7 linked regions of the Homo sapiens genome follow. The protein of the gene in region 6 purifies or fractionates together with the protein of the main gene of each other region. This does not show direct contact. Each region holds a gene or a part of one and is shown on either strand. Other genes may lie near its edges.

Region 1 (3,258 bases), on a different chromosome or scaffold from region 6:
AAGGCCAGTGCCATTTCTCCACTTATTCATCCATGAATTAGATGTTTTTGTTTGAGTATGTTCTGTGACCCAGGAACTATGCAGCGGTTCAGAACGCAGCTGTGAACAAGCAGCCCCAGCACCCATGCTTAATGGGGCCTCTCCTGGGTATCGAGGCCCATCTATTGCAGGGACCATGGTGGTTCTCCGGTGTGTGTCTGAGCTTGGCATGGGCTTCTGAAATACGAAATCCCCATTCTTTTGGAGGGTCAGTGTGTGGGTACTTGTGATCTTATTTCCTATTTCTTTTTTTTTTTTTTTTTTTTTATTTTTGGTGATGAAGGGTTCTCACTATGTTGCCCAGACTGATCTTGAACTCCTGGCTACAGGCACGAGCCACCATGCTTTGCCTGTGGTTTTGTTTTCTATCAGTCAAAAACTTTTACTGTGTTCCTTAGAAATTTTGGCACCACCATTTTGCTGCTCCTAAGTCAGACTTGTCCACCCTCAGAACACTGAAGACCCAAGTGTTGAGCCCAGGCTACTGGAAGGGGTTGTCCTCTGCATGGCCCTCCCTCAACCTGTGTCTTTCCCGTGAGTGTAGGGTATCAGGTCGGCAAACCCAGCCTCATCTCACACTTGGAGCAGGAGGAGGAGCCGAGGACAGAGGAGAGGGGCGCTCACCAGGGCGCTTGTGCAGGTGAGCGAGCCCCAGGCAAAGAGCGGTGCTGTGACTCTACCTCTATTCAGTGACTGGGGTGGAGGGAGGTAGGTTAGGGAGTGTCACCCAGGGAAATTGAGAGATGCTCCTTCCCTCTTTTTGCCCATCCATTCTCTGACAAATCTTTTGGTCCACACACTCCTTCATCTTTGACTTTCACATTCCCATTATTGGGCTCTTTGTCCCATTCTTTCATATTTGATGTTTCTGATCATCCGCTTTCTGTCATTATCAACATCATCTGAATTGCCTTAAATTTCTTTTTTCTTTTTTTTTTTTTTTTTTTTTTTTTTTTGACGGAGTCTCACTCTGTTGCCAGGCTGGAGTGCAGTGGCATGATCTCGGCTCACTGCAACCTCTGCCTCCCAAGTAGCTGGGACTACAGGCATGATGCCGCCATGCCTACCTAATTTTAGTATTATTAGTAGACATGGGTTTCACCATGTTGTCCAGGCTGGTCTCGAACACCTGACCTCAGGTGATCCACCCACCTCGGCCTCCCAGAGTGCTGGGATTACAGGCGTGAGCCACTGCACCAGGCCTGAATTGACTTAAATTTCTACCCCTGGCATTGCCAAATATCTCACATGACCAGATTTTTTAACAATTGCTTTTGCACCACTTTTCCTTACATAGCCTTAGGATCTGCCAAGAAATCCACCTGTCATTGTCACCATCATCCCACCATTTTCCTTTTCCAACAATTAATACTTTTCCAATTTGTTTCAGATTGGGAGACTCCATCTAAAACCAAGTGGTCACTTCTTATGGAAGATATTTTTGGGAAGGAAACGCCCAGTGGTGTGACGATGGTAAGATTTCCGTGGGATAATTCTGGATCTTCCTTCCACGTCTGAGGAGACTGGGGCAGCCTAGGTTAGAAAAGCAGTTCAACACCAGGGCAAGCAGCTTCCCTCAGAGGAGACTGTGTTTCAGAGACACTGGGTATTACCAAGATGGAGACAACCCTAAAGCTAACCTCAAGCTACTTTACCTAGAGTGTCTCTGAGTGAAGATTTTTATAGCTGTGTCTCAGATATTGAGTGTTGGGGCTCAATGCAGTTTTTGTTTTATTTTATATTTATGCTGTACACTTACTTATCAATTTAGTTTTGGTGGTGTTTATTTTTTGGGGGGCAGACAGTCTTGCTCTTGTTGCCCAGTGCAGTGGGCAACATCTTGGCTCACTGCAACCTCTGCCTCCCAGGCTCAAGCCATCCTCCCACCTCAGCCTCCTGAGCAGCTGGGACTATAGGCGTGTGCCACCACACTTGGCTGATTTTTCTATTTTTTGCAGAGACAGGATTTCACCATGTTGCCCAGGCTGGTCTTGAACTCCTGGAGATCCATCAGCCTCGGTCTCCCAAAGTGCTGGGATTATAGGCTTGAGCCACCATGCCCAGCCTCAATTCAGTGGTTTTTGTTTGTTTGTTTTTGTTGTTGTTTTTGTTTTTTGTTTTTTTTTTTGAGGCACAGTCTTGCTCTTGTCACCCAGGCTGGAGTGCAATGGCACGATCTCAGCTCACTGCAGCCTCCACCTTTCAGGCTCAAGTGATTCTCCTGTCCCACCCTCCCGAGTAGCTGGGATTACAGGTGTGCACCACCATGCCCAGCTAATTTTTGTATTTTTAGTAGAGACAGCGTTTCACCATGTTAGCCAGGCTGGTCTCGAACTCCTGACCTCAGGTGGTCCACCCGCCTTGGCCTTCCAGAGTGCTGGGATGACAGGCGTGAGCCACCTTGCCCAGCCTCAATTCAGTTTTAAGCAGTGAAGAAATGCTATATGCAAAAAGCTTTGAAAAAGTAACACATGTGGAGCCTTGTGGCCTGGCATTCACCTATTGTCCTTGATGGAGCTCAAATGGGGCAGGGACAGCACGTTTGCACGGCAGATGGTTACAGCTCTAGTCATAGTAATGTGCTTCTATCTGTTCATAGCAGTGTATGTGGGGATGACGCTTAGGGTTGCAATGAATATGAGAATTGCCTTTGTCAGCACTTACGTCTTAACCAACAGGAAAGAGCCGGTCTTGGAGAGAAGTCCACTGAATACGCTCACTTGTTCGAAGTCTTTGGCATGGACCCTCATCTCACTCAGCCAATGGGAAGGCACGCTGGCAAGAGGCCCTATCACCGCCGCGACTATGGGGTAGCGTTCAAGGGCAGGCCGCACCTCACTCAGCACATGAGCATGTACGACGGGAGAAAAATGCATGAATGTCATCAGTGCCAAAAAGCCTTCACCACGAGCGCGTCCCTCACACGGCACAGGAGAATCCACACCGGGGAGAAGCCTTACGAGTGCAGCGACTGCGGGAAAGCCTTCAACGACCCTTCAGCCCTTAGGAGCCACGCAAGAACTCACCTCAAAGAGAAGCCCTTTGACTGCAGTCAGTGTGGAAATGCATTCCGGACCCTCTCGGCCCTGAAAATCCACATGCGAGTTCACACTGGCGAGAGGCCTTACAAGTGTGATCAGTGCGGGAAGGCTTACGGCCGGAGCTGCCACCTCATCGCACACAAGAGAACGCACACCGGAGAGAGGCCCTACGAGTGTC
Region 2 (3,500 bases), on a different chromosome or scaffold from region 6:
TTTCCCAGCGAGCAGAGATGCTACAGAAGCTGAGTGAAGTCCAGGCTTCCGAAGCTGAGATGAGACTCTTTTATACCACTTCCAAGCTAGGCACTGGGAACCGCATGTATCACACCAAAGAGTGAGTTGGCCAGTCCTTTGCTAACCCTGCCCTCCCTCCAGGGCCCCCTAGGGAGGGCGCACAGGTTATGGGGTCCTCTGGGGGTGGAACATTTGAGAAAATACCTTTATGGTGGCCTGAGTGGCTGAAAATTCATTGTCATCCTAAATGCCTCTAGTGGGTAAAGGCCACAGATGCTGCTGAACCTTCTGCGACACACAGGACAGCAAAGTTTCTCGCTCCAGTGATGTCGGTGTTTTCCTGTGGTGTAGAGTCCCTTGTTACAGCTCTTCCAGCTTTTGTGCAGCTGATTAGGCCAGAAATTGCCATTAGGTGGTCAAGGGCTGGATTTGGCCCATCAGCGGGTTTGGTTTGGTTTGTGTCGTGTTTTTTTTTGTTTTTTTTTTTTGAGACAGAGTCTTGCTTTGTCACCCAGGCTGGAGTGCAATGGCGTGATCTCAGCTTACCGCAACCTCCACCTCCCAGGTTCAAGCGATTCTCCTGCCTCAGCCTCCCAAGTAGCTGGGATTACAGGCATGCACCACCAAGCCCGGCTAATTTTGTATTTTTAGTAGAGACGGGGTTTCTCCATGTTGGTCAGGCTGGTCTCGAACTCCCAACCTTGGGTGATCTGCCCGCCTCGGCCTCCCAAAGTGCTGGGATTACAGGCGTGAGCCACCGCGCCCGACTGGTTTGTGTCGTTTTTTAAGGCATGAGTGCTGTTTGCCAATATGTTAGCTTCCTGGCGCTGCCATAACAAATTACTGCAAACAGCGGTGGCTTAGAACAACCAAGCCAGAAGGGTGCCGTGGCTCATACCTGTAATCCTAGCACTTTGGGAGGCCGAGGCGGGTGGATCACCTGAGGTCAGGAGTTTGAGACTAGCATGGCCAACATGGTGAAACCCTGTCTCCACTAAAAATACAAAAATTAGCTGGGCATGGTGGCTCATGCCTGTGGTCTCAGCTACTCTGGCGGCTGAGGTGGGAGGATCACCTGAGCCTGGGAGGTTGAAGCTACAGTGAGCCGTGATTGCACCACTGCACTCCGTCCTGGGCGACAAGGTGAATTCATGTTCCCACCTAGTCTCGACTAGTTGGACGATCCGGCCACACCAGCAGTGTCCCCACCAAGCTGCTGACCCTTAAATGGCCTGTGTGCCCCTCCCACCCAGTCCCACCCCACTCTGTGGTCTCCTCAGCCTGTGCTGCTCATTTACATGAGGCCTGACTGGTGCCTGTGAGCACTGTCAGTTAGTGACTGTTTATCGAGTGCAGAGACTGTCCCAGGCTCTCTGCTAGGCCCTGGGGATAGAGCAGTGCACAGAAATAAAGTCCTTTCTCTTAAGGAGCTTCCCAGTGTCATGGCGGGAGATGTAATCGTGGGAAGTCATCAGGCGAGTGCATCTGTGTCCCACGCTGGGAAGCACTGAGCAGAAAATGAAGCAGGGAAGAGCGAGGTGGAGGGAGAAGGGTGAGATGTGGGGTCTGTGTGTGGTCAGGGAGTCTCCCTGACAGCTAGTGCTTAAGCAGAGGCTTAAGTGGAGTGAGAGGAGGTATCTGCAGGAAGGGCATTTCAGGGAGTGGAACAGCAGGTGCAAAGTCCCTGAGGCAGAAAGGGGTATGGCCTTGGAGTCCTGACCTCTGGGATTGAGGTGGGGCCTCTGTGCCTGAAGTCTCTGCTATCTCAACAGGAAGGCTGACGAGGTGGTAGCCCCGGGCCAGGAGAAGATCAGTAGCCTCAGCGGTGCCCACCGGAAGCGTCGCCGCTGGCCCTCAGCTGAGGAGGAGGAGGAGGAGGAGGAGGAGTCGGAATCGGAGCTGGAGGAGGAGTCGGAGCTGGACGAGGACCCAGCTGCTGAGCCGGCTGAGGCTGGTGTGGGGACCACCGTGGCACCTCTGCCGCCAGCTCCAGCACCCAGCAGTCAGCCCGTGCCGGCTGGGATGACTGTTCCTCCTCCTCCAGCTGCAGCCCCACCACTGCCCAGGGCCCTGGCTAAGCCCGCCGTCTTCATCCCCGTGAACCGCTCCCCGGAAATGCAGGTTCGCCACCCCGTGTTTGTGATTAAGAATCTAGGTTAGCGGGCAAGGGGCGCACAGAGGGCGTCCTGGTGAAGTGGGGCAAGGGCATCCCTTCTCTGTGCCTCCATGTCCCCATCTGGGAAAGGGGAGAGTGACTGCGCCTCCCTTGAGGCTGTGGCAGGGATTGGTGCGCGAGGAGGATCACAGTGCAGGGCGGGTGTCTGGCGGCACGCCTGGCAGGCTCGGGGCCCTGGAGGTCGGCGGCAGTAGCTTCATCGCCACTGCCCTCTGACCAGCGGGCCTGGCCTGGGCTGCCCCGATCCAGACAAGAGTTTGGGCTGTGAATCAGTTGACCCGAAATCAAGTGCTGATTCCCCTGCTCTCCAGCTCACTTCCCGCGCATCTGTAAAATGGGAATATTCCGGCTACTGAAGGGGCTCCCCCTCTCTGTGCCTGTTTCCTTCCTGGTACAATGAGTGTCTCACTGGGTTGTGATGACAATGAAAGGATTTGGGGCATGGAAAGCCCACAGCCCACGTAGGAACTCTGGATCCCTAGAGGAGTAATGTTGGCCGTTGAATGGAATTGGGATCCTGCTTCTAAGTACATTTTTCTGCTTTTATAAGTCTTCATCAGGGTAAGCTGACCGCTCTAGCAAATGACCCCAAAGTGCCAGTGGCTTCACACCACAAACGTTTGCTTCTAGGTGATGTCATCACCCAGTGCCATCTGGTGGCAAGGAGGGTGTGGGGTTCTGCTCCGCGCGGTCACTCAGGGGCTTGGCCTCCTCCATCCCGTGTCCCTGCCATCCCTTGGGACTTCAGTTCCTGCTTTTCTTTGTGAATTTTTCCCTATTCGTATCCTGTCCATATTCCTAAGCAATACATACCGTAGGTTTGCCTGTATTTAAAAGTGGCATCATGTCCTTTACGTTATTCCAGTTTGCTTTTTTGTTACTCAGCATTATATCTTGGGATACATCCATGTTGATGCAGGCAGCTGAGGCTCATTTACTTTTTCCCCACTGCTATCGAGTATTCACGGTGTGAATATAGCGCAGGATGAGTATTCTGTTGCTGGATAGTTGGTTGTTTTAGCTTTTTGCTGTTATCTTCACTGCTGTTTTTGTTGTTTGTTCGTTTGAAACAGGGTCTCACTCTGTCACCCAGGCTAAAGTGCAGAGGTTTGATCTCAGCTGACTGCAACCTCCGCCTCCGAGGCTCAAGTGACCCTCCTGCCTCACCCTCCCAAAGAGCCTGGGACTGTGGGCACACGCTACTACGCTTGGCTAACTTTGTATTTTTTTTGTAGAGACGGGGTTTTGCCATGTTGCCCAGGCTGGTCTTGAACTCCCAAGCTCAGGCAACTCCCAAACTCAG
Region 3 (3,500 bases), on a different chromosome or scaffold from region 6:
GTAAAGTGCGATCAAAAAAGGAAGGTGGTATTATTCTTATTATTTCCACGTGGACTGGAAGGGAGAACCCTGAACTAGATGCATTCAAATTCAGCTTTATCTCCAGCCTTCTCTGAATGTGTGCTGACTCACTGTCAGCTGCAGGAGCCATTTACACCCCCAAACATAAAACCCAGAGACAGAAGATTTACATGTACCTCTTTAAGTAGTAGCTAAAAAGAGAGTAGGGGCTTACTGTCAAAAAATGGCCACTTTTAATCCAGTATACATTTATGATTTAAGAGCCTACATTATAAACATAATCATATTAAGTATAAATCACATGTGTTTGTAAGCATGTTAGGTATACTAGGGATTTAAAAATCTGCATTTATAGGAAAATTATGTAATAATACATTTTCAACTCCTGGTTATTATCAGGAGTCTGTTTAAAAATCTAAAACTCCATTGATGTTAAGCATTGCAAGGTGAATAAATCTGGCCTTGAATAATAATATGAGGGAAAACGTGTATTTACAGAGATTTACCCTTACCTGCTCATATGGGTGATACTGATGAAAGAAAATTCAAAACCAAAATCTGCTGAACATTTCAATAGAACATTTCTATGTTGAAATTATGTGCATAATTTCTACCACTAGAAGCAAATACTTCATGTGTGAACTAAGGTGAATCTGAAATTTTCAGTCAACGAGTAATGAGCTCTGCACAAACTTGGCAGAAGACAGAACTGTGGCGAAGGGATTAGAAGGACAAAGGACAGAAATACCCATTTGTTGCCTTTCTCCCCTCCTCTCCTCCCAACACCCTAAGCTCTCATTTCCTTCTTGGCAGGAGTCCATTCCCAATCTAAACGTGAACCGAAAACCAGGGCATTTGGAAATGAATGGCAAGGATTTAAAAATTGGGCAGAAATACAAAATTGAACCGGGGATATTGGCAAAGGAAATTTTTAAATGCCCTTGATTAGGGGAAAAGTATGTATAAATTAAATGAAGGGAAAGGCCAGGCTTTGCAGACGAGGGTACCTTCTGGAGCTGACTCGAGGGCTTCTCAGCAACAACAGCCTTCCAGCATCCCCGGGGCCCCTTCCACTTGCGGATGTTGGGCAGGGTCGGCTGGTTTAGCTCCGTGCAGAACTGCAAAGACAGAGCACAGGTCAGAAGCGTGGGTTCGCGCCTAAAGCAGTCCCGGCTGGCGGCGGCCTGAGAAGCCAGGCACTGCATGATTCTGAGTCATCAGCCTTATTCAGACACTGCTGAACTACATCCCTGTTTTTCAAACACTAGGGTTTGCAAGAGCCAGATGACTAAACAAGCACCACACATTAAAAAGAAAACTGCCTGTGTGTGAAACACCAAATTATCACCTGGGGACTCTCAGTTCACAGAAATTGATTCTCTCTGTAGCATTCCTGCCCAAACAGTTCAAAAAAAGTCATCAGAATCCTTTTCATCCTTGTAAAAGCAGCGGATTGAAGGTCCCAGGAGGATCTGGATCAGCGTCAAATCCAAAAAGGTAACAAGATGGATACATGGTGACTTTCTTCTTCAGGGCTCAGCTTACAGGGGCAAAAAATGACCTCCAGCTTCAACTTGAACCACCGTAGTGCTTGTCTTGTTTACCTCTTGCTGCGGAGAGCTGCTGCTGCACCCACACACGTGCACGCGGCATGCACTTCTTTTGCTAATGCATGTTGCACCAATATGGCTGTAAAGTGACTGTCACTGAGGCAAAATAAAATTGCACACAGTAGGATGAGGAGTGGAACAACTATCCACTTCAAAATATGGAGACCAGCTCCTCTAACTCATGCCTCAAACACAACCCCTTCTCTTGGGGTCATGCCCCCTTGTCCTTCACAAGCCTTGGAGCACTCCACTTGTTTATTTCTCTAACCACCCCTACGAGTGAGAGCCTCTTGGCTTCCAAGCACATCACCACTCTCTCCGCTTAAGGACTCTCATTCAGCCCCACTGAGGCAGCTTACACCCCTATCCAGAAGACCCCAGCATCTGTACCCGTCGCCAGCTGCTCTCCTGAGTTTTAAAAGCATTTCCCACTGCCTCCTTAGCATCTCCACCTGGAGGTCTCCTTAGCCCCTCACAGCAGCAGGTCCCAAAGGGAACACATTATTCCTTCCTCCACCCAGTGCCCATCTTGGTCCAAAGCACTTCCATCCTTCCCGCTGCTCGAACTCCTTCCTCGCCTCCCACCAGCGCACTGATTCCACTGTCGCATGTGTCTTGGGTGCTTCCTTTCTGTTCTCCAGCCCCACTGCTGGAGCCTGTTTCAGAGTCCTGTCTTCTCTCACGGGGGTCACTGGCATAGCTTCTAAGAAGTCCGTCACTGGACCCACCCTGCAGCTATTCACTAAGTTCACTGTCATGGCCATGCTGATGCACCTCTCTGCGGTCCTCAAAGTGTGGTCTAGGGACCAGTAGCCACAGAATCACCTGAGAACGTGCTAGAAATCCTAGACCTACTGGATCAGCAGCTCTGAAGTGGGCCCAGCAATCTGTGCCTGAACAAACCCACTGGAAGATTCTGATGCACGCTTGGGTTTGAGAGCTGCTGTGGCCGCCCAGGTCCTCCCTCAGCCTCTGCCCCAGATCCTGGCGGTGTGTGAGCAGCCACCCTCTCAGCAGAGCCTCCCAACGCCTCTGCTGCAGAAAGCCACTCTCATGCCCCCTGGGCAGCCCACATACAATGGTTGGGAGAGGCCAGGGTCTAAAGGTCTGGTCTTTCCCCTCACATTGCTTTATTTGTAAGAGGGAAGATGAAGCACCAGTACTTCATTACTGAGTACTGAGCTAGTCATTTCTAGAGGGACAAGCGCTGTGGGGAAGATGAAACCAGGCAAGGGGAGGGAGAGTGCTGGGAGGTCTACTTTAGAAATGGGCTATTCTAGGAGTGACGCTGCTTTTACAGTTAGTCATGTAAGCATCTATCTTTCTCCAGCAGTGGACTCCACAGGGCAGGGACTGTACCTGAGCCTCCTTTATAAACCCCTACCTGGCACAGAGCACAGCACCCAGTGATGCTCTGAAACATCTGCTGGTGAAGCAGAAAACTCAAGGCAAGACTGCAGTCTTCAAATCTGTGCATGACAGCATGACAAACAAAGCAGGGGCAGGGAAGGGGGTCGGGGATGCGGGGGAGTCGGGGTGGTGGGAATTTCTCCTTAGGCTATTATCCAAGTAGTTGCCTCCATTGTAACCTGACTCTTTGCATACAGATATGTTCTCTGCTGCTGAGTTTGTCTGGGAAGCATTCTCTCTGGAATTTGCTCAACCATGACTTTTATAGGTTCTACTTTCAACACAGCCCAGAGCAGAGTGGCTGTGGAGAGAGTCACTGCTGACAGGGGCGAGGGAGTGGGGAAGGCGGAGAGGGTGGGGTTTTACCCTGGATAAGTCCCCCTGGCCAGATGCTCCTGGCTGGAAGCCATCCTCAGATGGGAAATAAAACACTTTGGAAGATGCAGCCAGAATTTATCG
Region 4 (3,500 bases), on a different chromosome or scaffold from region 6:
GAGACGGAGTCTCGCTGTGTTGCCCAGGCTGGAGTGCAGTGGTGTGATCTCGGCTTAGTGCAACCTCTGCCTGCCAGGTTCAAGTGATTCTCCTGCCTCACCCTCCTGAGTAGCTGGGATTACAGGTGCCCACCATCACATCCAGCTAAATTTTTTTTTTTGTATTTTTAGTAGAGACAGGGTTTTATCATGTTGGACAGGCTGGTCTTGAACTCCTGACTTCTGGTGATCCGTCCACCTCATCCTCCCAAAGTGTTGGGATTATAAGTGTGAGCTGCCACACCCGGCCTAGTTTGCACATTTCTGTTCTTAATTCTTGCTGTTATTCTGTGGTGAGAAGAATTCAGGGAAAAGGGGTCAGGTCTGATGGATCCCTTATTTTGGGCCCCTTCCCTTGCCCCTCACTTTCCCGGATCTCTCTCTTGACTTCATGGAGCTTGCTAAAGTTTCCCGAAGGACAAAGGAACAGTGGTCAGTGTTGAGACCCCATACCAACTCCTGTTCTTTCCCCAGCTGGACGAGTTCTATATTGGACAGATTCCACTGAAGGAAGTGACTTTTGCAAGGCTGAATGACAACGTGCGGGAGACCTTCCTGAAGGATATGTGCCGTAAGTACGGTGAGGTGGAAGAGGTAGAGATCCTCCTTCACCCCCGTACGCGCAAGCACCTGGGCCTGGCCCGTGTGCTCTTCACCAGCACTCGGGGCGCCAAGGAAACGGTCAAAAACCTCCACCTTACCTCCGTCATGGGCAACATCATCCATGCCCAGCTTGACATCAAAGGTGAGGACTCCTCTGCCTGCCACTCAGGCTTGGCCTCCAGCGGAGGTTGTACATGCAAATGCCTGTCAGGGTCAGGCAGGCGCCCAGGGTCATGATCTGAAACTGCTGGGGCCAGTTGTGTTTCTGAAATCAGATCAGATTTTAGAGTGGAATTATGGTACATGGATTTTTGTGTGTGTGGTGTCTCCAGCAAGGTCGGGCAATAGGCCATAATCAAGCACATAACTATCTGTAAAAAAAAAAAAAAATCATATGAAGGGTTGTACTAGGTAAGATGAATAGATTGTAGTAAATCAGCCCAGGTCAGGTTGGTTGCTTGGTTGGTTTTTGAGACAGGATCCTGCTCTGTCACCTAGGCTGGAGAGCAGTGGCGTGATCTTTCCTCACTGCAGCCTCCAGCTCCTGGGCTCAGCCACCCCAGCCTCCTGAGTAGCTGGGATTATGGGCATGCACCACCACACCTGGCCAAAGTTTTTTTGATTATTTGCAGAGATGAAGTCTCACTACACTGCCCAGCCTGTTTTTAATTTTTTTTTTTTTTTTTTGAGATGGAATCTCAATCTGTCGCCCAGGCTGGAGTGCAGTGGCACGATCTTGGCTCACTGCAACCTCCACCTCCCAGGTTCAAGTGATTCTTCTGCCTCAGCCTCTTGAGTAGCTAGGATTACATTTATGCGCCACTACGCCCGGCTAATTTTTGTATTTTTAGTAGAGATAGGGTTTCACCCTGTTAGCCAGGCTGGTCTTGAACTCCTGACCTCAAGTGATCTGCCTGCCTCGGCCTCCCAAAGTACTGGTATTACAGGCATGAGCCACCATGCCTGGCCTCTTTTTAATCTTTCTATATGCTATTCTATAACCCATATAGGTTTTGGTGCCAGATTCTCAGAAATACTGGATTTTCTGGGTTTTTAGGTTTGGAAATTTGAGATAGAGAGTAAAGGAGCTGTGAACACAAGCGAGGTGGTCTGGGCTTCTGTGTTGAGTGATGGGGAGCAGTGGGGTCTGTGGCGAGCTGCAGATTGCAGTATTGTCTGGAGGAGGCAGCCATTAGTAGGCACTGGCCAGTTTGCAAGTGGAAATGAGGTTTAACATTCTTGAATTTGGTTTGTAAAAGAAAGCCAGGGCCGGGCATGCGGTGGCTCACGCCTGTAATCCCAAGACTCTGAGAGGCCAAGGTGGGCAGATCACCTGAGGACAGGAGCTCGAGACCAGCCTGGTCAACATGGTGAAACCCCATTTCTATTAAAAATAACAAAAATCCGGACGTGGTGGTTCATGCTTATAATCCCAGCTACTCGAGAGGCTGAGGCATGAGAATCACTTGAACCTGGGAGGTGGAGATTACATCGTGCCACTGCACTCAAGCCAGAAATTTGGGTTTTTGTGTGAAATCTCATGGTTTTTAAATACCATGTTTCTTTCCTCACAAGGTGTTTCTGAGGTGTTCACTCCACAGCTCCTGCAGGCTCCGTTAGTCCCCCGGTTGCTGTTCTGCATGCTTTAGTTTACAGGATAAAGAGCATGGGGTGATCGAGCCTCTGGGTTTGAATTCCAATTTTTCCAATGACCAATTCTGTGACTTTGTGTAGGTCGCTTTTAAGCCTCTAGAACAGAGGTACTGATGCTTCCCTTCTGGTGATCCAACATGGTAAAATAAGTAGAAGTGTTTTTGATAAATCGTGAAGTGTCATAAAATATGTTGTTTGTGGTAGTTTAGAGGTAGAGATAAGGTAGAAGGTCCCAAAGGTAGAGTTATGGTAGGAGAACTGAAATCCTGAAACCCAGATTCCAAGAAATTGTAGGAAACTTGAGGCCTGAGAAAGCAGGAATACCAGATCAGGAAGGAGTTAGTATCTCCATCTGACAATTGGTTCCCATTTCCCTCCCTCCAGGACAACAACGAATGAAATACTATGAACTAATTGTCAATGGCTCCTACACCCCTCAGACTGTGCCCACTGGGGGCAAGGCCCTGAGTGAGAAGTTCCAAGGCTCGGGTGCAGCCACTGAGACGGTGAGAAGTTTGTGGCTACCACAGCCCCTAGCCATGTGGGCATGGTGTCCGGGTGCCCGGAGCAGGAGCAGTCTTCGGGAGGTTCCGGGCTTTCCCGTTAAACAAAGAAGAGCCAAGCAAAGCTGCTGAGATGCTTTCAAAAGACAGGGAACTAGGGGCCAGGCACAGTGGCTCACGCCTGTAATCCCAGCACTTTGGGAGGCCGAGGCGGGTGGATCATGAGGTCAGGTGATTGAAACCATCCTGACTAACACGGTGAAACCCCATCTCTACTAAAACTGCAAAAAATTAGCCAGGCATGGTGGTGGGCGCCTGTAGTCCTAGCTACTTGGGAGGCTGAGGCAGGAGAATGGCATGAACCCGGGAGGCGGAGCTTGCAGTGAGCCGAGATCACGCCACTGGACTCCAGCCTGGGCAATAGAGCGAGACTCCGTCTCAAAAAAAAAAAAAGGGAACTAGGATTCCTGGTTTGGGAAAGGGCAGGTCTCAAGTGGTGTTTGAGCCCATTCCTCTCTCCTTGCCCTGCTCTGTCGCTCTAGGCCGAATCCCGCCGCCGCTCTTCCTCTGACACAGCTGCCTACCCAGCAGGCACCACTGCGGTGGGCACTCCTGGCAACGGCACCCCCTGCTCCCAGGACACAAGCTTCTCCAGCAGCCGACAAGATACCCCATCTTCCTTTGGCCAGTTCACACCTCAGT
Region 5 (3,500 bases), on a different chromosome or scaffold from region 6:
TTTTCGTGTAACAGAACTTGAAGTCCACTCCAAAGTCAGTACTAAGAAAAGCAAGAGAAAAGGTACAGATGATTTTGACTTTGCTGGCTCATTTCAAGGTAAGAAAATACATTTAATATCTTTTAAAAGCAGTGTCCATGTGAAAGGTGTCATTATCATTTTGGGAAATGAACTCTCCTAAATTTGATTAATAAAATTCAGGGGTGGGGGGGGTTCTTTTTAAGAAAGATGTTAAGTGGAAATTATTTTCCACATTTTGAATTGTTTCTCGCATTCAGATATCTCTGGATCATCTTTTCATTCACTTTTTAAAAATTTGTTATCATTATTTCAGTTGTTTTTGGGGAACAGGTAGGGTGTTTGGTTACATAGGTAAGTTCTTTAGTAGTGATTTCTGAGATTTTGGTGCACCCATCACTCAAGCAGTACACTGCACCCAATGTGTACTCTTATCCCCCACTGCCTCCCACTCTTCCCCCCAAGTCCCCAGAGTCCATTATATCATTCTTAAGCCTTTGCATCCTCATTGCTTAGCTCCCATTTATAACTGAGAACATAGAATGTTTGGTTTTCCATTCCTGAATTACTTCGCTTAGAATAATGGTCTCCAGCTGTATTCAGGTTGCTGCGAATGCCATTATTTCTCTCCTTTTTATGGATGAGTAGCATTCCATGGTATATGTATACCACATTTTCTTTATCCACTCATTAGTTGATGGGCATTTAGGTTGGTTCCATATTTTTGCAATTGCAGATTGTGCTACTATAAATCTGTGTGTTTGTCTTTTTTATATAATGACTTATTTTCCTCTGGGTAGTACCCAGTGGTGGGATTGCTAGATCAAATGATAGTTCTACTTTCAGTTCTTTAAGGACTCTCCATACTGTTTACCATAGTGGTTGTACTAGTTTACATTCCCACCAGCAATGTAGAAGTGTTCCCTTATTACCACATCCATGCCAACATCTGAAATTTTTTTTATTTTTAAATTACGGCCATTCTTGCAGGAGTAAGGTGGTATTGCACTGTGGCTTTGATTTGCATTTCCCTGATAATCAGGGATGTTGAGCATTTCTTCATATGTTTCTTGACCATTTGTATATCTTTTGAGAATTGTCTGTTCATATCCTTAACACACTTTTTGATGGGATTGTTTTTTTCTTGCTGACTTTTTTGAGTTCCTTATAGATTCTGGACATTAGTCCTTTCTCAGATGCATAGTTTACGAAGATTTTCTCCCACTCTATGGGTTGTCTATTTACTCTGCTGATTATTTATTTTGCTATGCAGACGCTTTTTAGCTTAATTAAGTCCCATCTATTTGTTTTTGTTGCATTTGCATTTAGGTTCTTGGTCATGAACTCTACTTAAGCCAATGTCTAGAAGAGTTTTTCCAATGTTATATTCTAGAATTTTTACAGTTTCAGGTCTTATCTTTAAGTCTTCGATCCATCTTGAGTTTTCTGCATAAGGTGAGAAATGAGGATCCAGTTTAATTCTCCTACATGTGGCTTGCCAGTTATCCCAGCACCAATGGTTCAATAGGGTGTCCTTTCCCCACTTTGTTTTTGTTTACTTTGTCAAAGATCAGATGGTTGTAAGTATTTGGCTTTATTTCTGGGTTCTCTATTCTGTTCCATTGGTCTACGTGCCTGTTTTTGTACAAGTACCATGCTATTTTGGTAACAATAGCCTAGTAGTATAGTTTGAAGTCAGGTAATGAGATGCCTCTAGATTTGTTCTTTTTGTTTAGTCTTGCTTGGCTATGCAGGCTCTTATTTTGTTCCATATGAATTTCAGGATTTTTTTTCCTAGTTCTGTGAAGAATGATGATGGCATTTTGATGGGAATTACATTAAATTTATAGATTGCTTTTGGCAGTATGGTCATTTTCACAATATCGATTCTACCCATCCATGAACATGGGATGCGTTTCCATTTGTGTGTGTCTGTGGTTTCTTTCAGCAGTGTTTTGTAGTTTTCCTTTTAGAGATCTTTCACCTCCTTGATTAGGTGTATTCCTAAGTATTATTATTTTTTTTTTTTTTGGCAGGTGTTGTAAGGGGGGTAGAGTAATTGATTTGATTCTCAGCTTGGTTGCTGTTGGTGTATAGCAATGCTACTGGTTTGCGCACATTGATTTTGTATCCTGAAACTTTGCTGGATTTATTTATCAGATCTAGGATCTTTTTGGATGAGTCTTTAGGGTTTTCTAGGTATGCTATCATATCATCGGTGAATAGTGACAGTTTGACTTCCTCTTTACTGATTTGAATGCCCTTTCTTTCTCTTGTCCAGTTGCACTGGCTAGGATTTCCAGTACTATGTTGAATAGAAGTGGTGAAAGTGGGCATCCTTGTCTTGTTCCAGTTCTCAGGGGGAATGCTTTCAACTTTTCCCTGTTCAGTATAATGTTGGCTATGGGTTTATCATAGATGGCTTTCATTACTTTTAAGGTACGTCCCTTGTATGCCAGTTTTGCTGAGGGTTTAAATCATAAAGGATGCTTGATTTTGTCAAATGCTTTTTCTGCGTCTATTGAGATGATCATATGATTTTTGTTTTTAATTGTTTATGTGGTATATCATATTTATTGACTTGCGTATGTTAAACCAGCCCTATATCCCTGGCAAGAAACCCACTTGATCATGGTGTATTATCTTTTTGATATGCTGTTGGAGTTGGTTAGCTAGTATTTTGTTGAGGGTTTTTGCATCTGTGTGCATGAGGAATATTGGTCTCTAGTTTTCTTTTGTTATGTCATTTCCTGATTTTGGAATTAGGGCGATATTGGCTTCATTGAATGATTTAGGGAGGATTCCCTCTTTCCCTATCTTTTGGAATAGTTTCAGTAGGATTGGTACCAGTTCTTTGAATGTCTGATAGAATTCAGCTGTGAATCCATCTGGTCCTGGACTTTGTTTTGTTGGCAGTTTTTTTATTACTGTTTCAGTCGTGCTACTTGTTATTGGTCTGTTCAGAGTTTCCATTTCTTTCTGGTTTAATCTAGAAGGGTTGTATATTTCCAGGAATTTATCCATTTTTCTCTAGGTTTTCTAGTTTTTGTGCATAAAGGTGTTCATAGTAGCCTTGAATGATCTTTTGTATTTCTGTGGTATCGGTTGTAGTATCTCCCATTTCGTCTCTAATTGAGCTTATTCAGATCTTCTCTCTTCTTTTTTTGGTTAATCTTGCTAATGGTCTACCGATTTTCTTTATTTTTCCACAGAACCAGCTTTTTGTTTCATTTATCTTTTGTAGTGTTTGCTTCAGTTTTATTTAGTTCTGCTCTGATATTTGTTATTTCTTTTCTTCTGCTGGGTTTGAGTTTGATTTGTTCTTGTTTCTCTAGTTCCTTGAGGTGTGAGCTTAGATTGTCTGTTTATGCTCTTTCAGACTTTTTGATGTAGACATTTAATGCTGTGAACTTACTAAATGTAGTGCCGCTTTTGCTGTATCCCAGAGGTTTTGATGGGTTGTGTCACTATTGTTCAGTTCA
Region 6 (3,500 bases):
AAGCTTAAGGGAGCCCATAGCAGGAGTAGCTATCCAGATTGGGTGGGGAAGAAAAGGCTTTCTGAAAGAATGAGTCTAAGCATTTTGTAACCTTCTAATTTTTATGTCAGTTTTTTCATCTATAATATACTTTACAATGGCTGAGTAGTGTTTTATAATATGTAACTACCAGAGTTTAATCAGTCCCCTGTTATTAGACATTTAGGAGCATTCCCTGTTGTGTCGTTTTAAATAATACTGTAATGGATATCTTTATATAATCTTCAATTATTTTCTTAGATAACTTTTACTTGGAAGTGGAATTTCTGGGTCTGAGGATTAGAAATATTTTTTAAGACTTTTAACATGTATCATGAAATTGCCCTTCAGAAAGTTGTACCAGTTTATACTTCCAGCAGTAGTAGTTGAGAATGACCAGAAACCGCAGACTTTGCCAACTTGATAGGAAAAAATGATATCTCATGGCTTACTTTGCCTTTGTTGATTTACCTGTATGTATCATAGTAATTCATAGGCTGACAGCAAAATATGCCTAGCTTAAATTTAAATTTTATGATGATAACTGAACAAAAGAATCTATGTTGTTACATAGATTTCAGAATCATCATATTTAGCTATCGTATAATGTTTCATACCATTGCTATATCATGATTTATTTAACCATTCTCTGTTTTTTGGATGTGTGAATTATTTCTGATTTTTCTCCATTATCAGTAATATACTGCTTTGAAAAATGGATACCTTCAATTTTATTCTTTTCTTCAATCCAGAATATTATTATATTTAAGATCTCTGTCTCATTTGTTTTCTAAACACGTAAGTTGTAATAGCAAATTCAGAGAAATTGAGGATAGGCTATTTAATGAGATCAAGTACCTTAAGAAGCTTGTATGTTGACACTAGTCCTAGCAACTAACTTCTTTTTAATTATTGTGGCCAGAAACACCAGATGAAAATGGTAAAACCCAGAGAGCCGATGATTTTGTCTTGAAGAAAATAAAGAAGAAAAAGAAAAAGAAACACCGAGAAGACATGCGAGGAAGACGCCTTAAAATGTACAATAAGGAAGTACAAACCGTCTGTGCTGGCCTGACCCGCATCAGTAAAGAAATTCTCACCCAAGGACAAATAAATAGCACTTCAGGACTTAATAAGGAGTCCTTCAGGTATCTGAAAGATGAACAGCTGTGCCGATTAAATTTGGGTATGCAAGAATATCGGGTACCCCAGGGAGTACAAACACCTTTTATGACTCACCAGGAACATTCTATTCGTAGAAATTTCTTAAAAACAGGTACTAAATTTAGCAACTTTATTCATGAGGAACACCAGTCCAATGGTGGTGCTCTTGTCCTTCATGCTTACATGGATGAACTCTCATTTTTGTCTCCAATGGAGATGGAGAGATTTTCTGAGGAGTTTCTTGCTTTGACATTCAGTGAAAATGAGAAAAATGCTGCTTACTATGCTTTAGCAATAGTGCATGGAGCGGCTGCTTATCTCCCAGACTTCTTGGACTACTTTGCTTTTAATTTCCCCAACACTCCAGTGAAAATGGAAATTCTGGGCAAGAAAGATATTGAAACAACCACCATTTCAAATTTTCACACTCAGGTAAGATAAAAATTGTTGTTAAAAATTAGTAAATACGATTCTAAACAGAATTAACCTCTTTCTGTCGCACAGCACATACCAGCACATTTTTGATAACAAATTTATGGTAATAAAGGTGCTTCAAATTGTTTGTCTCTTCCTCTAATTGAAAAATCTTAATTACTGAGTTCGGGTGGGGCTTCTTCTTTACTGGAGGGAATGCTTTATACATGTTATACATCATTACAAATCTTTATGGAAAACTAGCTTGAAAACTTACCTGGTCTTTCACAAATCGGGTAATGTTAGTATGGAGGATGTGATTGAGATCTGTTAGTCTCAGGATAACTTTAGTTAAGATTTGCTTTTATATCATAATAAAACACGTGAGGGCATGGGCCTGTTTATATGCCAGGTTTTTGGAGTTTTTATATCTCTTTCAGTAACTTGTTGGCAGTCCATCCCAGAAATATACCCCATTTATGTGACTTGGAAGTGTCATTAGGAAGACCGCCATAGCCTCTGCTCCTTCTGCCTATACATTGTTGTAGGTGAAGACATTTTTTGAAGCCTTGCATGGGCAGCTAGGCTTAAGTCAGCAGGGAAACGTCTGCTTCTTAACCAGTGGTTTTAACCAAACATTTTTTTCAGTGAAGTTATTTTAGGGAATAAGAAGTTAATAATGTGTCCTAGTTTTTTTCTTACTTGCTTTTCTCGTAAGAATTGAATATAAATGGTCAGCTATAAGTTTCTGCAGTATATATTATAAATTCAACTTTAGTGGAGACTTTCACTTTTTAAACTTTTATGATTATATGTTCTGTTTTTTCAGGTTGTCTAGTAATTTGCTGCCATTCTTTTCCCTTAATATATATATATTTTTTTAGGTAAATAGATTGTTGCCGTAATAAGACTCTCAGCTGCCTGAATTATAGTGGTTTCAAGCCACTTAGATTTATTTGAAACCTCCTCTAACTTGAATCTTTTTAGTGAGTCTTACCATCTTTGCCTCCAATGAGGGGAGTATCCAGTTTAGATTTATGAGCTTCAGAATTTCTCTAATTGAAGTTCTCTCTGCAGTAGAGAGAGCAGGAGCAGCCAATGTGGAGAGGTCGCAAGATGGGGCTGCCCAAGATGTTGGAACACCATGTGCAATAAAGGGCTTCGTCTTGGATTTTGGCCTTATTACCACAACCAGGTACCGAAGTGCTGACTTTTGTAGTAGATTTTCTTTTTTCATTTTCATTTTTTTTTTAAGTTTTGCCCTTTGAAGGTCAAGGAATCCTATTTTTATAAATATTGCAGATGAGACTGAAAACATTTCTCCTAATATAGTCCATAATCCCCATAAGTTCCCTATTTAACAAGGAAAGATATTGCTGAGAGCAGAATCAACATGCTCTATCATTTTTTTAGTTTAGAAAAATGCAGCAAATTTTCTCTTTTGATAGACCAACAAGCATTTCTGAGAAATAAGCCAGAAATTTGGGGGAAAACTGTCCCAGTTTTGTAAGGGTGTCTTTTTAACATTCATATTAGTTAAAGTGGATCAAATTTGTATGTCAACAGACAGTATCCAGTCTAAATAGTTAATAAAAGAAAATATCTTGAAATATTCCCTGCTGATTTTTGTCCTCCAATTAATTTTTTAAAATGGAGCTGAAATTTAAATGACTGTACCAACAACTTACCTTGATACTTACTTTGAGATTTAAAAAATAACCACTTTTTAAGAACATTTCAGATTATGATTAAATTAGATATTAAACGCTTCAACCACATAAGAATATTGAGGACTGTTGAATGAGTCCTGTGCTCTGGTGGTCCTGGAACTTAATTTTATTTATGAATTTTCAGTCATTAGAGAAGAGTATGGTGTGGATATGGGAGGTTGGATTAGCCGACTA
Region 7 (3,500 bases), on a different chromosome or scaffold from region 6:
CCCTTCCTGGCTGAATAGTTTCGTTAAGATGTGTCTTGGTTGGGTACCGTGGCTCATGCCTGTAATCCCAGCAGTTTGGGAGGCTGAGGTAGGAAGATTGCTTGAGCCCAGGAGTTTGATACCAGCCTGGACAACAAAGTGAGACCCTGTCTCTACACACACACACACACACACACACACACACACACACACACACACACACACAAAAGAATGAGCTGGGTACCGTGGCACACACTTGTGGTCTCAGCTACTCAGGAGGCTGAGGTGGGAGGATTGTTTAAGCCTGGGAGGTGGAGGCTGTGCTTGAGCCACTACACTCCAGCCTGAGTGACAGAGTGAGACCTTGTCTCAAAAAAAAAAAAAAAAAAAGTGCTTTGGACCAGCCTGGGCAACATAGCAAGACCCTGTCTCTATGAAAAAACACAAAAATTTAGTGGGTATGATGGTGTGCACCTGTGGTTCCAGCTACTCGGGTATGGTGAGGTGAGAGGATCACTTGAGCCAGAGAGGTCCAAGCTGCAGTGAGCCATGTGCCACTGCACTCTGGCCTGGAGAACAGAACAAGACTGTGTTTCAAAACAAAACAAAAAGATGTATCTTGGTATGTTTTTCTTTGAGTTATCCTATTTGGTGTTTGTTGAGCTCCTTGAATCTGTAAATTTATATCTGACCAAACGTGGGGGATTTTCCACCTTTTTTTTTTCAAATGTATTTTTCTGCCTTAGTATCTTTCTTTCTTTCTTTTTTTTTTTTTCCATTTAACCCTGAGTTGACACAGCACATGTTTCAGAGAGCACAGGGTTGGGGGTAAGGTTATAGATCAACAGCATCCCAAGGCAGAAGAATTTTTCTTAGTACAGAACAAAATGGAGTCTCCTATGTCTACTTCTTTCTACACAGACACAGTAACAATCTGATCTCTCTTTCTTTTCTCCACATTTCCCCCTTTTCTTTTCGACAAAACCGCCATCATCATCATGGCCCATTCTCAATGGTCACTGTCTCTTCGGAGCTGTTGGGTACACCTGCAGAAAGGCTGTCACTTCACACTTGGAAGATTGCACAGCGGCCAGTCAGAGGTGCTCCTCACTTCCCAGACAGGGTGGCGGCCGGGCAGAGGCGCTCCTCACATCCCAGATGGGGCGGCCAGGCAGAGGCACTCCTCACCTCCCGGACAGGGCGGCCGGGCAGAGGCGCTCCTCACATCCCAGACGGGGTGGTGGCCGGGCAGAGGCACTCCTCAGTTCGCAGACGGGGTGGCAGCCGGGCAGAGGCGCTCCTCACCTCCTAAACGGGGTGGCGGCCGGGCGGAGGCGCTCCTCACCTCCCAGAAGGGGTGGCGGCCGGGCAGAGACGCTCCTCACCTCCCAGACGGGGTGGCGGCTGGGCAGAGACGCTCCTCACCTCCCAGACGGGGTGGCGGCCGGGCAGAGGTGCTCCTCACCTCCCAGACAGGGCGGCCGGGCAGAGGCGCTCCTCACTTCCCAGACAGGGCGGCCGGGCAGAGGCGCTGGTCACATCCCAGATGATGGGCGGCCAGGCAGAGACGCTCCTCACTTCCTAGACGGGGTGGCGGCCGGGCAGAGGCGCTCCTCACTTCCCAGACGGGGCGGCCGGGCAGAGGGTCTCCTCCCATCCCAGATGATGGGCAGCCAGGCAGAGACGCTCCTCACTTCCTAGATGGGGTGGCGGCCGGGCAGAGGCTGTAGTCTTAGCACTTTGGGAGGCCAAGGCAGGCGGCTGGGAGGTGGAGGTTGTAGCGAGCCGAGATCACGCCACTGCACTCCAGCCTGGGCAACATTGAGCATTGAGTGAGCAAGACTCCGTCTGCAATCCCAGCACCTCGGGAGGCGGAGGCGAGCAGATCACTCGAGGTCAGGAGCTGGAGACCAGCCTGGTCAACACGGCGAAACCCCGTCTCCACCAAAAATACAAAAACCAGTCAGGCGTGGCGGCGCGTGCCTGCAATCCCAGGCATTGGGCAGGCCCAGGCAGGAGAATCAGGGGAGCCCGAGGTAGGGAGGTTGTAGCTAGGTGAGATCACGGCAGTATGGTCCAGCCTTGGCAACAGAGGGAGACCGAAGAAGGGAGAGGGAGGAGAGCGGGGAGAGGGAGAGCGAGAGCTGCATTAGTATCTTTCGCCTCTCCCTCTGGGATTACAACTACACTTAAGTTAAAACGTTTGGTATTAGGGTTTTGTTGAATGTTTTTCAATCTTTTTTTCTCTTTGTTCTTCAGACTGGTTTTTTTTCTTTTCTTTTCTTTTTTTTTTTTTTTGAGATGGAGTCTCGCACTGTCGCCCAGGCTGGAGTGCAGTGGTGCGATCTCTGCTCACTGCAGCGGCGCGATCTCTGCTCATTGCAGCCTCCGCCTCCCAGGTTCAAGCGATTCTCCTGCCTCAGCCTGCCGAGTAGCTGAGATTACAGGCACCCACCACCAGGCCTGGCTAATTCTTTTGTATTTTTAGTAGAGACGGGGTTTCACTATGCTGATCAGGCTGGTCTCGAACTCCTGACCTTGTGATCCGCCTGCCTCGGCCTCCCAAAGTGCTGGATTACAGGCGTGAGCCACTGTGCCCGGTGGAGACTGGGTCATTTCTATTGAACGGTCTTCAAGTTCACAGACTCTTTCCTCTGTCATCTCCATTCTATTACTGAACCTATCTGATGAGTTTTTATTTCAGATGTTGTATTTTTCAGTTCTAAGATTTCATTTGGTTCTTTTTTATGGTTTCTTTTTCTGCTGATGATTCCCACCTTTTCCTTCATTTCTTGTGTGTTTTCTTTATAAGAAAGTATTTCTTTTTTGTTGACAGTATTTGATAGTCCCAAAATCTGGATCACCTTGTGGCTGGCATGTTTTGGTCATTTGTTCCTTTGAAAATTGCTCACATTTTCCTGGTTCTTTATGTGTTGCATAATTTTGGAATTTATCCTCATCATTGTGAATACTTTTTGTGTAGATTTTGGGTCCTATTATAATTCTTCTGGGGAATGTTGCCGTTTCTGTTTTAGCAGGCCACCCTGCTTCAGGTTCAGGCCAAAACTTCTGTCTTGCTTTTGGAGGCATTTGTTAAAATCTCGGTTCTGTTCTTTATGTCTTTGCTATGTTGATTTGAGCTGTCCCAAACATGAATAGCTTAGGGGCTGGTCTGAGACTTCTGCAGGTGTTTCCAATCTTATTTCAGTTCTCCAAGCTTTTGCTGCTTTGGTTTGGGTCACATTAGAGTTCAAATCTCATTTTGGTTTTCAAAGTCTTTGCTAGGCTGGTACGTATGGGTATATGCCACACATTCATGGCTAAGGTTAAGTTGTGACTTATTTGGATTCATACATTGAATTAAGAGATTCTTTTTTTTGCCTGTTTTCTCTCTAGCATTCCTCCCACCCCCAGTCCCCCAACTCTGGTCCACAGGGACCTTTTTTCCTGATTTACCTGGTAAGAAAGAAGGGAGTTTCTAGAATTAAAGCTGCCTATGCTGCTCTGCAAGTGGGGTTCAT

What was found.
Region 1: the proteins of RSBN1 (region 6) and ZNF317 purify together in Homo sapiens (affinity purification with mass spectrometry; 2 studies listed by BioGRID and IntAct, with this or other methods). This does not show direct contact.
Region 2: the proteins of RSBN1 (region 6) and DHX37 purify together in Homo sapiens (affinity purification with mass spectrometry; one large-scale study listed by BioGRID and IntAct). This does not show direct contact.
Region 3: the proteins of RSBN1 (region 6) and EEPD1 purify together in Homo sapiens (affinity purification with mass spectrometry; 2 studies listed by BioGRID and IntAct, with this or other methods). This does not show direct contact.
Region 4: the proteins of RSBN1 (region 6) and SETD1A purify together in Homo sapiens (affinity purification with mass spectrometry; 2 studies listed by BioGRID and IntAct, with this or other methods). This does not show direct contact.
Region 5: the proteins of RSBN1 (region 6) and CEBPZ purify together in Homo sapiens (affinity purification with mass spectrometry; 2 studies listed by BioGRID and IntAct, with this or other methods). This does not show direct contact.
Region 7: the proteins of RSBN1 (region 6) and ZNF512 purify together in Homo sapiens (affinity purification with mass spectrometry; 2 studies listed by BioGRID and IntAct, with this or other methods). This does not show direct contact.

The regions. Positions count from the first base shown.
Region 1 is NC_000019.10:9,157,397-9,160,654, forward strand, and holds part of ZNF317 (zinc finger protein 317), read left to right. Parts: intron 1-437; exon of another isoform or gene 438-583; coding exon 584-679; intron 680-1,429; coding exon 1,430-1,512; intron 1,513-2,717; coding exon 2,718-3,258. UniProt on the Homo sapiens protein: May function as a transcription factor. May play an important role in erythroid maturation and lymphoid proliferation.
Region 2 is NC_000012.12:124,979,132-124,982,631, reverse strand, and holds part of DHX37 (probable ATP-dependent RNA helicase DHX37), read left to right. Parts: intron 1-8; coding exon 9-121; intron 122-1,793; coding exon 1,794-2,142; intron 2,143-3,500. UniProt on the Homo sapiens protein: ATP-binding RNA helicase that plays a role in maturation of the small ribosomal subunit in ribosome biogenesis. Required for the release of the U3 snoRNP from pre-ribosomal particles.
Region 3 is NC_000007.14:36,278,754-36,282,253, reverse strand, and holds part of EEPD1 (endonuclease/exonuclease/phosphatase family domain-containing protein 1), read right to left. Parts: intron 1,140-3,500; coding exon 1,029-1,139; intron 1-1,028.
Region 4 is NC_000016.10:30,960,754-30,964,253, forward strand, and holds part of SETD1A (histone-lysine N-methyltransferase SETD1A), read left to right. Parts: intron 1-513; coding exon 514-784; intron 785-2,679; coding exon 2,680-2,801; intron 2,802-3,340; coding exon 3,341-3,500. UniProt on the Homo sapiens protein: Histone methyltransferase that catalyzes methyl group transfer from S-adenosyl-L-methionine to the epsilon-amino group of 'Lys-4' of histone H3 (H3K4) via a non-processive mechanism.
Region 5 is NC_000002.12:37,207,597-37,211,096, reverse strand, and holds part of CEBPZ (CCAAT/enhancer-binding protein zeta), read left to right. Parts: exon of another isoform or gene 1-14; coding exon 15-98; exon of another isoform or gene 99-3,500. UniProt on the Homo sapiens protein: Stimulates transcription from the HSP70 promoter.
Region 6 is NC_000001.11:113,795,477-113,798,976, reverse strand, and holds part of RSBN1 (lysine-specific demethylase 9), read left to right. Parts: intron 1-940; coding exon 941-1,614; intron 1,615-2,673; coding exon of another isoform or gene 2,674-2,676; exon of another isoform or gene 2,677-3,500. UniProt on the Homo sapiens protein: Histone demethylase that specifically demethylates dimethylated 'Lys-20' of histone H4 (H4K20me2), thereby modulating chromosome architecture.
Region 7 is NC_000002.12:27,593,042-27,596,541, forward strand, and holds part of ZNF512 (zinc finger protein 512), read left to right. Parts: intron 1-3,500. UniProt on the Homo sapiens protein: May be involved in transcriptional regulation.